4 linked regions of the Homo sapiens genome follow. The protein of the gene in region 1 purifies or fractionates together with the protein of each later gene. This does not show direct contact. Each region holds a gene or a part of one and is shown in the gene's direction. Other genes may lie near its edges.

Region 1 (2,899 bases):
AACTTCGAATAGATGAAGATAACTTGGTAGGAAGAGCTGGTGAATAACAAAATAAATATTGTTAACAAAAGACCAGGAGATCTGTGGAGGGAAAAAGAGAACTTTATTTTCTGTTAAAAAAACAACCTGCACATTGGGTGTTATAGCCTTCAGTACAAGTGAAAGCGTGCTTTCCGAATAACTTTTCCATGTTCTTCTTTAAGAAATTTCACTGCTGCTCGTAAGGTTTTGAGGAGCTGACAAGCTCTGACTGGTGAGGGATGGCAGTCGGCAAAACTAGTCTGAGAGCTGCAGCCAACATTTTGTGTTCCAGGTGCTTCTCCCCCCAGCTTCTCAACTCAGTTTTAGTTGGGTATGACAAGAATGACTGAATTTGTGTGATCAACTCTCACAATATCATTAGATGGGAATTAAGGTGTGCTGAAGATAACAGAAGCACAACACCCAAAGACGCCAGGTGCAGTGGCTCATGCCCGTAGTCCCAGTGCTTTGGGAGGCCAAGGTGGAAGGATTGGTTGAGCCCAGGAGTGCAAGGTTGCAGAGAGGTGTCATTGCACCACTGCACTCCAGCCTGGGCGATGGAGCAAGACCCTGTCTCTTAAAAAATTCTTATGAGTAGAAATCTCTTAAGTTTACTAAAGAATCAAGAAAATGGGAAGAAGAGGCTATAATTATAATACTGTCTTTTGTAGCACTTTACCATTTGTGAAACAGCTAAAGTGGGTATTTTTGTACTCTTCTTTAAGATGAAGAATTTGAGGCTTATGAGATTAAATAGAATGATTAAAAACCTAGTTGGCAGAGCTGAGCTTTTTGTGCTCATCACATTCTAGTAAAAGGGTTAGAATTCTTTCTTCTCGGCCAGGCTCGGTGCTCACACCTGTAATTCCAGCACTTGGGAAGGCCGAGGTGGGCAGATCACTTGAGACCAGCCTGGGCAACATGGTGAAACCCCATCTCTACAAAAAATACAAAAATTAGCCGGGCGTGGTGGTGTGTGCCTGAAACCCCAGCTACTTGAGAGGCTCAGGCAGAAGAATCTCTTGAACCCAGGAGGCAGAGATCAAAATGAGCTGAGATTGTGCCACTGCACTCCAGCCTGGGCGACAGAGCGAGACTCACTCTCAAAGAATCAAGAATTCTTTCTTCCCAATTACATCTTACATTGTTGTAAGAAATAGAGTAGTATTATAGGACAGAAAGCATGTAGGTATGCCAGATGCCGAATAATGGATGTCACGAGAAACACAGATAGATGTATCCATTAAATATATCCCCAGAAAGGGAGAAATTGAAAACGAAATAATAGGGTATTTGGGAGAAGGGATGGTGGTGCTGTGTAAAGTCTGAAAGATGAGGAAACTAAGAAGTTAAATAACTTGAAGCCACATGACCAGTGGGTGGCACAGACCCCAGATGTGAATCCCGACACGCCTCATCCAAGCCGTTTCCAAAACTGACTCTGCACCTAATGGGGATTTTTCTGAAGGTGCACTTGCTGACATAATGGATAATAATGCACACAATACACAGGAAGGAAATTAGAATGTTTAGGTATCAAATGTAGGCTAGTCTCCCTGGGTTCTTCCTCCAGGGCTCTCAACAGCCGTCAGATCTGCATGTGTCTATCTACAGAACTTTCATATTTATACTGACCTGTTGTCAAGTGTTTGTTTACATCCAGAAGGTCTCTCATCTTCCTTGCCTCACTGTGGGTGTCTGTTCATGGTACTACTGTTAGTTCACCAACCCAGCTTGGAACTTTAGCTTTACTTTTTTCACTCTTCTCTTCTCCCATGACCAAAGAGTTCAACCATGGTATATGGACCCTTGCACTAGAACATTCTTTGGGGGAGGTGTACATGGTGGGATGTTTAACAGCATCCCAGGCCTCTGTCTGCCAGTAGTACCTTCTGCCCTTAAGTTGTGACAGTCAAAAATATCTCCAGACATTGCCAAATAAGATGAAGACTGAGACTTGGCCACTAGATTTGAAGTTGTAAGTGACCCTGCTAGCAGCATATTAGTGGCATGGTATGAGTAAAGACTGCAGCGTATGTTAACGACGAGAGAAGAATTTGAAATAGGGAGTTTAGGCAAGTCTTTCAAGGAGCTTGTGGGGAGCAGAGAAATGCAAGTGGTAGCTGGAAAGGGATGTGAAGTCAAGAGCATTTTAAGAAAAGAAACGGGAATGACTCTCACAGAGATGGAAAAAACGGGAGGTGTCAGGTACCACCTGACAGCAGCTTGAGTTTGCTGACAACCAGGCATGAGCTGCAGTCATCCCCAGGGCTCCCTTTCCATCTGCTGTGCATAAAACGTATTCAGATTCCACAAAAGGTTGAGCCAGAAAGATCTTTTAAAAGCACCACCTCAAGAGTTTGCCATTTTAACCAGTCGCTTACACATCCACACCCAAGTCTAAAGACTGCCCCGATTTCTTACCTGCAGTGCTACAACTGTGAGGAGGAGGCCATGTACCACTGCTGCTGGAACACATCCTACTGCTCCATCAAGTGCCAGCAGGAGCACTGGCACGCGGAGCACAAGCGCACCTGCCGCCGGAAAAGATGAAGCTGGCCCTTCCCGGAGTCACCCCGATGATTACTCTTTTCAGACACAGCGGTTTTTGTTTCCAAGAAGCCAAAATTGTTTAGAATTTGCTTCCCATTTTGCACCAGCCTTTAAACACTTTTCGTGAAGAAATTTTGCACAGTAGTTTAAATCTTTTGTTAATGCTCCTCCGAAGTTTTTCAGGGGGTAAAAGTAACATCAGTGGAGGGTATTATTTTAAATAAATTTTAATTGAGAATTTGTTGCATTTTCAGCAAATTTTAAAACATTTTTAGGTTTTACAGAGATTTTAACCTTTAAACAACAGATCTTTAAAAAACAGGTG
Region 2 (3,779 bases), on another chromosome or scaffold:
GGCAGGAGAATTGCTTGAACCCGGCAGGCAGAGGTTGCAGTGAGCCGAGATCATGCCACTGCACTCCAGACTGGGCAACAGAGCAAGACTGTGCCTCAAAAAAAAAAAAAAAAATAGCTGCTGAGGAGAGGAGGAGCTCTTGAGTACTCAATGCAAACTATTGGAACTCTAGTTCTTGAGTTGGGTAATAGATTCCTGGTTATGCATTGTGTTTTTTATATGTACTCCAATACATAAAGTATCTGCTTCATTGAATTGAATGAGATAAGAATTGAAGTGTACATAAGGCATTTAGGAATGCCTTATTATTCTACTTAGGGTCTTAGAACTGTAATATTACTGCATGTTGACACTGCACATTGTTCATAGGCCACCTATAAATATTTTGTTAATTGTGTTCTTAATGAATGGAATCTGTGGTGGGATCATTCCAAATCAGCATATGGTTCAGTGGTCATTTTTTTCAGCCATTTGAAAATGTAAAATATGTGGGTGTGGTAGCTCACGCCTGTAATCCCACCACTTTGGGAGGCCTAGGCGGGAGAATTGCCTGAGCCCAGGAGTTTGAGACCAGCCTGGGCAACAAAGTGAGACCCCATCTCCACAAAAAATAAAATAAAAAATTAGCCAGGCTTGATAGTGCACACCTGTGGTCCCCGCTAGGCAGGAGGATCACTTGGGCCCAGGAGGTTGAAGTTGCAGAGAGCTGTGTTTGCACAAGTGCACTCCAGCCTGGGTAGCAGCAAGACCCAATCTCAAAACAAAAAGGCACTCACTTCCATTTGGAGTTTTTAAAAATCCTTTTATGGTATGGATTCCCAGTGTCAGAACAGTTACCAGGTCTTGGCTGATAAACTAGATGGTGAGAAGACTTTGAAAATAGTTGGGGATATTAGTATTATTTTTAACATAAAACAGTCTTCTAATACACTTTCTTGAAAATAAATACGTGCCTTTTTCAAGATGAAAATTTGCAGTTACCTCAACCCAGCCTTGGCTAAATCACGTTCTGCATCTGCATCTCACACCAAAACTACAGACACCTCTAAAACAGACTCCAGGGCTGGGCACGGTGGCTCAAGCCTGTAATCCCAGCACTTTGGGAGGTCAAGGCGGGCAGGGGCAGATCACCTGAGGTCAGGAGTTCAAGTCCAGCCTGACCAACATGGAGAAACCCTGTCTGCACTAAAAATACGAAACTAGCCTGGTGTGGTGGCGCATGCTGTAATCCCAGCTACTTGGGAGGCTGAGGCAGGAGAATCGCATGAACTCAGGAGACGGAGGTTGTGGTGAGCCGAGATTGCGCCATCGCACTCCGGCCTGGGCAACAAGAGCAAAACTCCGTCTCAAAAAAAAAAGACTCCAGGCTGGGTGCGGTGGCTCACACCTGTAATCCTAGCACTTCGGGAGGCCGAGGCGGGTGGATTATTTGAGGTCAGGAATTCGAGACCAGCCTGGCCAATATGGTGAAACCCTGTCTCTACTAAAATACAAAAATTAGCCGGGTGTGGTGGCGCGTGCCTGTAATCTCAGCTCCTCAGGAGGCTGAGGCAGGAGAATGGCTTCAACTGGTGTGGGGTGGAGGTTGCAGTGAGTTGAGATTGCGCCACTGCATTCCAGCCTGGGTAACAGAGCAAGACCCTGGTCTCAAAAATTAAAATAATTAAAAAAAAAAGACACCAAAACACATACACACTTTTTTTTTTTGGAGACAGGGTCTCTGACCCCCAGGCTGGCGTGCGGTGGTGTGATCACAATTTACTGCAGCCACCAACTCATGAGCTCAAGTGATTTCCCCCCTTAGCCTCCTGGGTAGCTGGAATACATGTGCAAGCCACTAGGCCCAGCTAATTATTTTTTGTAGAAATGGCATATTGCTATGTTGCCCCAGGCTGGTCTCAAACTCCTGGGCTCAAGTGATCCTCCCACCTCAACCTCCCAAAGTAGTGGGATCACAGGTGTGAGCCACCACCCGGGTCATACATACTCTCTTTGGGATATAAGAGGGGATGCAGGGATTTTTTTCCCTATTTATTGAGGGCTTTAATACTGTTTTTAATATTTTTAAATATTTCTGTTCTTTGTATTTCCTAGCACCAAATCAGATGAAAGCCAAGGAAGGGAGGAATGTGTACAGTTCTTCACGCTATGATGATTATGACAGATACAGACGTTCTAGAAGCCGAAGTTATGAAAGGAGGAGATCAAGAAGTCGGTCTTTTGATTACAACTATAGAAGATCGTATAGTCCTAGAAAGTAAGTGTGCTGTGTAGCACAGTGATCTGTTTAAAAAATGTATTTGTTAGCATTTAATTTTTTTTTACTATTTTGTATACTTTTAATTATATACATTGAATGTTTCATTGAGACAAAAAATACTGTAGCATTTTATTTTAAAAGTTTTATGGTTTGCTTTTAATTAGAAACTTTGCCTCTATGAATAGATATTTGTCACTGCTTTTTCTGATATGCTTTTTAGCAGTAGACCGACTGGAAGACCACGGCGTAGCAGAAGCCATTCCGACAATGATAGGTAAATAACTTTGCTTTGAAAAAGACTCATGTATTTTTTAATTTCAGAGTGAACTTTTGCTCTAAAAATAACAAATTTGATTAATATAGAATCTAATTTTTACTCTAATTATATCTCTCCTCTGTTTTGAAAGATTCAAACACCGAAATCGATCTTTTTCAAGATCTAAATCCAATTCAAGATCACGGTCCAAGTCCCAGCCCAAGAAAGAAATGAAGGCTAAATCACGTTCTAGGTCTGCATCTCACACCAAAACTAGAGGCACCTCTAAAACAGATTCCAAAACACATTATAAGTCTGGCTCAAGATATGAAAAGGAATCAAGGAAAAAAGAACCACCTAGATCCAAATCTCAGTCAAGATCACAGTCTAGGTCTAGGTCAAAATCTAGATCAAGGTCTTGGACTAGTCCTAAGTCCAGTGGCCACTGATAGTATAAACCATGGTCATTTTTAGGCATGTATCATTCATTTACTCATAGTTTGGTTTACTTAAATTATCAGGAATACAATGTTGCAATGATGCTTAAAAAACACTTGTTAGTTTTCCCTGTACCAGGCAATGGTTATAATTAAAATGATATGCTGTTGAGAAGCCACTCTTAAGAGTCCAGTTTGTTTAATGTTATGGGCAGCTACCAATTTGTGGTGTCTCTGTATATTTTTGTAAAGATTCTCATTTTTTATGCTTGAAGTATTTGGTGAAAAGATGTTGGTTGACCATAATTTGCAACATTGTCTCATTAAAAATAAACTTTCATATTCATATTTGGTAGAACTGTTAACCTAGAAATGTAGCTTGCTAATAAGATAGAATGATACAAAAGTGAAGTAGTAGCCACAGTACAACACTGACTGCTCAGACACATTTAGGTTCAGGGTGGACCTTTATGTCTTGTCAAGATGTCTAGGCCCGGCTGGGCGTGGTGGCTCACACCTGTAATCCCAGCACTTTGGGAGGCCGAGGCGGGCGGATCACGAGGTCAGGAGTTCGAGACCAGCCTGACCAACACGGTGAAACCCCGTCTCTACTAAAAATACAAAAATTATCCGGGCATGGTGGCACATGCCTGTAATCTCAGCTACTCAGGAGGCTGAGGCAAGAGAATCGCTTGAACCTGGGAGGTAGAAGTTGCAGTGAGCCAAAATCACGCCACTGCACTCCAGCCTGGGCAACAGAGTGAGACTCCGTCTCAAAAAAAAAAAAAAACCGGATGTCTAGGCCAATGATAATTATTTTTGATGC
Region 3 (3,779 bases), on another chromosome or scaffold:
GACCTTTCAAGAATCTTTAATTTTTAAAGTAAATCCAAATGGTTTACCAATATGGTGTGGATTCACTTAGCAAATGTTTATTGAGCATTTAATGTGTGCCAACCCTTGTTCTGGCCATTGAATATTCAGCAGTGAACAACAAAAAAATCAAATTTCAGCCCTCAGAAGGTTTGGGGAGGCAGACAGTAAATAAGGAAAAAAGGCCAAGCATGATTACATGCCTTTAACTCCAGCACTTTGGGAGGCCGAAGCAGAAGGATCACTTGAGACCAGCATGGGCAACATAGTGAGACCTAGTCTCTACAGAAAATTTTAAAAATTAGCCGAGTGTGGTGGCACACACCTGTAATTCCAGCTACTCAGGAGGCTGAGGTGGGAGGATCACTTGAGCCCAGGAGGTCAAAGCTGCATTGAGCCTTGATCGTACCACTGCACTCCAGCCTTAGAAGCAAAGCGAGGCTCTCTCTAAAAGAAAAAGAAAAAATAATAAGTGATATGTCAGCTGATAATAACTATGAGAAAAATAAGGAAAGAGGATTGAAGTGTGAGGATGCTAGAGAGGCTACAGTTTTAAACAGGATGATCTGAGAAAGTGAGAGTTGAGGAACAGCCTGCAGGAGGTGAAAGAATACACCACACTGTGACAGGTATTCCAGACAGGTGCAAGCATCCCAAAGCTGGAGTATTTCTGGTGTGTCCATAAAGTTAGGTTGCTAAAATAGAATAAACAAAGAAGGAAAAGGAGTTGAGGTGAATGAGTTAATGATGGGTCCACATTTTAAAGGGCTATTCCAAAGGCCTTGGTTTTTACTCTGATGAGAAGTCATTGGAGGCCTTGAGCTGATGCGTGACACTGATTAATGTTTTAAAAGGCCACTTTGGCCACCTTTTTGAGAATAAGCTATGTAGAGGCAAGGGCAGAAGCAGAGAAGTTAGGAGGCTGTTGGAATTATCCAAGTGAGAAATGATGGGGCTTGGACCACGGAGATAGTGATGGACATGATGAGAAGTAGTTGAAGATAGAGTAGACATAATTTTCTGATGAATTAGATGTGAAGTATGAAAGAAAGGACTTAAGGATGATTCTATGTCTGGTTCTAGATATGTCTTTTGGCCTAAAAACAGGAAGAATGAGATTGCCATTTACTGATAAAGAGATTCTTTAGGGAAAAGCAGGTTTGGGGAGGAAAAGGGGGAGTTTTAACTTGGCCGTGTTAAATTTGAGATGCTTGTTAGATTTTCAAAGGAAAATACTGAGAAGGCAGCTGGGGATACAGCTCTAGAGTTAAGGGAAGGGGTCCTACCTGGAGATATAAATTTGGATATCACCAGGTATTTAAAGCTGTCAGTCTAAGTGAGATCAGAGCATAGATAAAGAAGAATAGCAGTCCAGGGACCAAACTCTGGTACTCTCCAATGTTTAGAGGTGAGAAAGATGGAAGCAACTAGTAAAGGAGACTGAGAAAGAACAGCTAGTGAAGTAGCAGGAAAACTAGGCAGTGAGGTATCCCAGAAGACAACTAAAGAAAGTATTTCCAGGAAGGAATAATGAACTGTGTCAAATGTTGCTGACTTGAATGGGGGCGGTAGCTCACGCTTGTAATCCCAGGATCTTGGGAGGCTAAGGTTGAAGGATCACTTGAGGCCAGCAGTTTGAGACCACCCTGAACGATGTAGTGAGACCCTGTCTCTACAAAAAATAATAGTAATAATAATAATTTTTTTTTTTGAGACGGAGTCTTGCCCTGTTGCCCAGGCTGGAGTGCAATGGCGTGGTCTTGGCTCACTGCAACCTCCATCTCCTGGGTTCAAGCGATTCTCCTGCCTCAGTCTCCTGAGTAGCTGGGATTATAGGTGCGCGCCACCATGCTCGGCTAATTTTTTGTATTTTTGGTAGAGACAGGGTTTCACCACATTGGCCAGGCTGGTCTTGAACTCCTAACCTGAGGTGATCCGCTTGCCTCAGCCTCCCAAAGTGCAGGGCTTATGGGTGTGAGCCACTGCACCCTGCACAAATCAATTTTTAATAAAAAAGTAAAAATGTTGCTGACAGGTCATGTTACATATGGACTAGAAGTGACTGATTTAGCAAGGTAGAATTACCTTATCAAAATAGTTTTGCTAGATTGGTAGGGGAATTGCCTGATTGTAGGGAAGAAAATAAAAGGGAAAGGAACCTATGGCAATGAGTATAGACAACTCTTCTTTTTTTTTAGATGGAGTCTTGCTGCCCAGGCTGGAGTGCAGTGGCGCAATCTTGGCTCACTGCAATCTCCGCCTCCCGGGTTCACGCCATTCTCCTGCCTCAGCCTCCCGAGTAGCTGGGACTACAGGTGCCCGCCACCACACCCAGCTAATTTTTTATATTTTTAGTAGAGACAGGGTTTCACCGTGTTAGCCAGGATGGTCTTGATCTCCTGACCTCGTGATCCGCCCGCCTCAGCCTCCCAAAGTGCTGGGATTACAGGCGTGAGCCACTGCGCCCGGCCAAGTATAGACAACTCTTTAGAGGAACTTTGCTCAAGCAGATAAATGGAGGGAGGGTATGGCTTGAGAGGATTTTTGTGGTAGAAATTGGAGCAAATTTATGTGCTGGCAGCAGTGATCTGATACAGAAGAAAATAGATGATGTTGAAAAGAGAGGAGAGATTTAGTGGAGAAATGCCTTTGGGTTGGGGAAAAGTGATAGGATGTAGTAGGAGATACTGGCCTTTGCTGGTTCAGAGCAGCGGGAACTCATGGAATACGTGGGCCAAGTTGCAGGGAAGTGTGGTAGTGTCGTGGTGGGAGCTTGTGGAGGTTGTTTTCTGGCTCCTCTTTTCTCAGTGGAATAGAAAACAAGGTCCTCACAGGGGAAGTAATATTGGAGGTATGAATAGAAGGAAGGTATGAAAATAGGCATCTAGAAGAGGGAATGTACCAAGAAACTGTATTGTGACTGTCAGGCAATATTAAGGACTCACTTGATGTAGGTAGACATGAATTTAAAGTGTTAAAAGGCCAGGCACAGTGGCTTATGCCTATAATCCCTACACTTTGGAAGGCCGAGGTGGGCGGATCGCTTAAGCCCAGGTGTTTGAAATTGGCCTGGGCAACATGGCAAGACCCTGTCTCTACAAACAGTTTTAAAAAATGAAAAATTAGGCCAGGCGCAGTGGCTCACGCCTGTAATCCCAGCACTTTGGGAGGCCGAGGCAGGTGGATCACAAGGTCGGGAGATCGAGACCATCCTGGCTTAACATGGTAAAACCCCGTCTCTACTAAAAATACAAAAACAAAATCAGCTGGGCGTGGTGGCAGGCGCCTGTAGTTCCAGCTACTGGGGAGGCTGAGGCGGGAGAATGGCATGAACCCCGGAGGAGGCGTTTGCAGTGAGCCAAGATCGCACCACTGCACTCCATCCTGGGTGGCAGAGCGAGACTCTGTCTCAAAAAAAAACTAAAAAATAAAAAATTATTTGGATGTGGTGGCATGTCCCTGTAGTCCCAGCTACTTGAGAAGCTGAGGTGGCAGGATTGTTTGAGCCCAGGAGGTCAAGGCTGCAGTGAGCTGTGATGGCACCACTGTGCTCCAGCCTGGGTAACAGAACGCAACTTTGTCTCCAAAAAATAAATAAATAAATTGTTACAATGAAAGTGGCTCTGTGTTAGCCGGGAGTGGTGTGGTTCATGCCTGTAATCCCAGCACTTTGGAAGACCGAGGCAGGCGGATCTCTTGAGGTCAGTAGTTCAAGACCAGCCTGGGCAGTAGTTCAAGACCAGCCTGGGCAACATGGCGAA
Region 4 (3,937 bases), on another chromosome or scaffold:
GTGCCTGGGCAGCTTTGAAAGTTTCCCTCTTTCTGTCATAATGAGATGGTCTAGGCCCATCTTTGTGTACTACTTCCTGCTTTACGCCTGGAGTCAGTCATTTTCCCAAGGAGTCCTGGTTGGTAGAAAATAAGAATCTACAGTCTGGATGCATTAAAAAAATTTTGTAAAGCTTGGATTGTCGGTCTCTTTAAAACAGCTCTCGTCACAGTGAGTTGAATAGATCGTAAAGGGGAAAAGTATACACAGAAAGGCTGGTTGTTGAACAAGGGGAGAGATAATGGTGGCTTGCCCAGAGAGGCAGCAGCAGAGGTAGAAAGACCGAAGATCAGGAGGCATGATCGTGGGTGTGTAAGGGGATAGGGGAAAGACGGGGGAGTCAAGGATGGCTGTGATTTCTGTTACGAGGAACCATATGAATAACAGTGGCATCAGTGCACATAAGGAGCCCAGCAAAAGGAGCCGGCATCGGGGACAGTTAGAATTTCAGGAGCTGCTAAGAGGTTCAGGTGAACCATCCAGATGGAAGGTTTGCAGGTGACTTCATCTGTGGACCTAGAACCCAAGAGAGAGTTTGTGCCTGGACACAGCCAGTGCTGTACATATTGAAAATCTTGGCCGGGTACGGTGGCTCATGCCTGTAATCCTGGCATTTTGGGAAGTCGAGGCAGGTGGATCACCTGAGGTCAGGAGTTCGAAACCAGCCTGACCAACATGGAGAAACCCCGTCTCTACTAAAAATACAAAATTAGCCAGGCGTGGTAGCACATGCCTGTAATCCCAGATACTTGGGAGGCTGAGGCAGGAGAATCGCTTGAACTCAGGAGGTGGAGGTTGTGGTGAGCCGAGATCGCGCCATTGCACTCCAGCCTGGGCAACAAGAGTGAAACTCCATCTAAAATATATATATATAATATATATAGTCTTGATTGATGCTCATCAGCAGCCTCTTGTCAGCAAGTATTAAAAAATATTTTCTCCCCCTAGGTCTCGCTCTCGAAGCAGACATTCCCGTAAGAGCAGAAGCCGAAGTGGCAGCAGCAAAAGCAGTCATTCTAAGAGTAGATCTCGGTCCAGGTATGTCTTCCATGTTATAAGTAGAGGTGGTCAGCAGGGAATGCCTGTACCCTGTCTCACTTTTTTTTCTTTTTTTTTTCAAAGAGACACTCTGTCACCCAAGCTGGAGTCCAGTGGTACAGTCATGGCTCACTGCAGCCTCACCTCACTGGGCTCAAGCAAGCTTCCACCTCAGCCTCCCAAGTAGCTGGGACTACAGGCACATACTACCACACCCAGCTAATTTTTTAATTTTTTTTAGAGACAGGGTCTCACTATGTTGCCCAGGCTAATCTTAAACTCATGACCTCAAATAGTCCTCCCAGACTACTGCGATTACAGACATGAGCCACTGTGCCCAGCCTCACTTGGATTTCAATCATGTGACCAGTCTTCCTGCTTTTCCAGCTTCTTTTTCTTTTTTTTTTTTTTTTTCCCCCCTCAAGACAGAGTCTCGCTCTGTCGCCCAATCTGGAGTGCAGTGGCGCGATCTCGGCTCACTGCAACCTCTGCCTCACGGGTTCAAGCGATTCTCCTGCCTCAGCCTCCTGAGTAGCTCGGTTTACAGGCGTGTGCCAGCATGCCTGGCTAATTTTTGGTATTTTTAGTAGAGACGGGGCTTCACCATGTTGGCCAGGCTGGCTCTTGAACTCCTGACCTCGCGATCCGCCTGCCTTGGCCTCTCAAAGTGCTGGGATTATGGGCATGAGCCGCCGCACCTGGCCAGTTTTTCCAGCTTCTGATTGGCATTGTGAGGGTTCAGAAAACAATCCTCAGCCAGTGCCAGCCATGCTTTATATTGGGGGGTGTAACTCCACATGTATGCCCTTTGGTCTTTTTATCTCCTGATTAGCATGAAGTCACATGTGACACAAACAGTATCCCATGTCTCCTCAGGTCGGGCTCCCGCTCCCGGAGCAAGAGCCGGAGCCGGAGCCAGAGTCGGAGCCGGAGCAAGAAAGAGAAAAGCAGGAGCCCCAGCAAGGAAAAGAGCCGCAGCCGCAGCCATAGCGCTGGCAAGAGCCGCAGCAAGAGCAAAGACCAAGCTGAAGAGAAGATCCAAAACAATGACAATGTCGGGAAACCCAAGAGCCGGAGTCCTAGCAGGCATAAAAGTAAGAGCAAAAGTCGGAGCAGGAGTCAGGAGAGGAGAGTGGAGGAGGAGAAGCGAGGGAGTGTGAGCAGGGGCAGGAGCCAGGAGAAGAGCCTCCGCCAGAGTCGGAGCCGGAGCAGGAGCAAAGGGGGCAGCAGGAGCCGGAGCAGGAGCCGCAGCAAGAGCAAGGACAAGAGGAAGGGCAGGAAGAGAAGCAGAGAGGAGAGCCGCAGTCGCAGTCGCAGCCGCAGCAAGAGTGAGAGGAGCAGAAAGCGAGGCAGCAAGCGAGACAGCAAGGCGGGCAGCAGCAAGAAGAAGAAGAAGGAAGACACTGACCGCTCCCAGTCCAGATCTCCATCCCGCTCCGTGTCAAAGGAGCGGGAACATGCCAAGTCTGAATCCAGCCAGAGGGAAGGTCGAGGAGAGAGTGAGAATGCTGGCACCAATCAGGAGACCCGGTCCAGGTCGAGATCCAATTCCAAATCGAAACCAAACCTTCCATCAGAATCACGCTCCAGATCAAAGTCAGCTTCAAAAACCCGATCTCGGTCCAAGTCTAGATCCAGGTCTGCTTCCAGATCGCCCTCCCGATCTAGATCTAGGTCCCACTCAAGGTCCTAACTGGCTATGGCCACAGCTGGAACTACCCGAGAAGTCTTTTGTACATGTTTGGTAGCCGTAGCACAAGTGATTGGAGTAGAACATGTCACTGCTGTACATTTTTAACTCCCCTAATGGTGTGTCTATAATTGTTAAATCTAAGTGCTTCCTCTCAGTAAAGCCTCCTGGCACCAGGCCTTCCTGCTCGACTGAAAAAAATTTTCTCTTTGAAAATCCCCTTTTACTCATGGCCCACAGTAGAATATCCAAAACGCCTTGGCTTTCAGGCCTGGCCTTTCCTACAGGGAGCTCAGTAACCTGGACGGCTCTAAGGCTGGAATGACCACATAGGTAGGTATGGTGAGTTCAACCATTTTTGCTCTTGAATTGATGCCCTTCGATGTATGCCATTTAGTGAAAGTGCTAAGTCTTAAGTTTCCTACCACTTTGGTTTCATATTTTTGGACTTAACAAAGTTGTGAATAGCACAGTCGAGGAAAATTGATACCTGCAGTAACCCATAGGAAATAAACTGTAGAGTTCCATATTCTGGTATTGTGATTATATTGTTTTATATTAAAAAAGAAAAGAAAAGAATTTTTTTTAATTTTATTTTTCCCCGTCTTGCAAAGTATAGTGACCCCTGTTTCCATTAAATTTGAATAAAGACTATTTTTGCTTGACAAAATTTCATGGTGTTTGAATTGAAGTTGTACTTTCTGATATATCTTGATATGTCTTTTCTTAGCATAAAAAGTTCATGTGTAGGCCGGGCACGGTGGCTCACGCCCGTAATCCCAACAGTTTGTGAGGCTTAGGCAGACGGATCACAATGTCAGGAGTTCGAGACCAGCCTGACCAACATGGTGAAACCCCGTCTCTACTGAAAATACAAAAATTAGCCAGGCATGGTGGTACACGCCAGTAATCCCAGCTACTCAGGAGAATGAGGCAGGAGAATCGCTTGAACCCCGAGGGGTGGAGGTTACAGTGAGCTGAGATCACGCCACTGTACTCCAGCCTGGGCGACAGAGCGAGACTCCGTCTCAAAAAAAAAAAAAAAAAAAGTTCATGTGTAATGACTGTTTTGTTCCTTGGGATCACCCATCTTAGGGAACCAACACGTTCCTAAAGGATTTTTCTCACCAACAGAATAAAGGCAGGTTTCCGAGGAATTTATCATCCTTT

Evidence for each region. Proteins that work in one complex are often made in the same cells at the same time.
Region 2: the proteins of ZMYND11 (region 1) and SRSF10 purify together in Homo sapiens (affinity purification with mass spectrometry, with the first as the bait; one large-scale study listed by BioGRID). This does not show direct contact.
Region 3: the proteins of ZMYND11 (region 1) and KDM3B purify together in Homo sapiens (affinity purification with mass spectrometry, with the first as the bait; one large-scale study listed by BioGRID). This does not show direct contact.
Region 4: the proteins of ZMYND11 (region 1) and SRSF4 purify together in Homo sapiens (affinity purification with mass spectrometry, with the first as the bait; one large-scale study listed by BioGRID). This does not show direct contact.

Annotation. Positions count from the first base shown.
Region 1 is NC_000010.11:249,897-252,795, forward strand, and holds part of ZMYND11 (zinc finger MYND domain-containing protein 11), read left to right. Parts: intron 1-2,451; coding exon 2,452-2,574; 3' UTR 2,575-2,899. UniProt on the Homo sapiens protein: Chromatin reader that specifically recognizes and binds histone H3.3 trimethylated at 'Lys-36' (H3.3K36me3) and regulates RNA polymerase II elongation. Does not bind other histone H3 subtypes (H3.1 or H3.2).
Region 2 is NC_000001.11:23,970,328-23,974,106, reverse strand, and holds part of SRSF10 (serine/arginine-rich splicing factor 10), read left to right. Parts: intron 1-2,094; coding exon 2,095-2,257; intron 2,258-2,480; coding exon 2,481-2,534; intron 2,535-2,667; coding exon 2,668-2,965; 3' UTR 2,966-3,779. UniProt on the Homo sapiens protein: Splicing factor that in its dephosphorylated form acts as a general repressor of pre-mRNA splicing. Seems to interfere with the U1 snRNP 5'-splice recognition of SNRNP70. Required for splicing repression in M-phase cells and after heat shock.
Region 3 is NC_000005.10:138,393,906-138,397,684, forward strand, and holds part of KDM3B (lysine-specific demethylase 3B), read left to right. Parts: intron 1-3,779. UniProt on the Homo sapiens protein: Histone demethylase that specifically demethylates 'Lys-9' of histone H3, thereby playing a central role in histone code. Demethylation of Lys residue generates formaldehyde and succinate. May have tumor suppressor activity.
Region 4 is NC_000001.11:29,147,243-29,151,179, reverse strand, and holds the end of SRSF4 (serine/arginine-rich splicing factor 4), read left to right. Parts: intron 1-987; coding exon 988-1,077; intron 1,078-1,953; coding exon 1,954-2,770; 3' UTR 2,771-3,437; downstream 3,438-3,937. UniProt on the Homo sapiens protein: Plays a role in alternative splice site selection during pre-mRNA splicing. Represses the splicing of MAPT/Tau exon 10.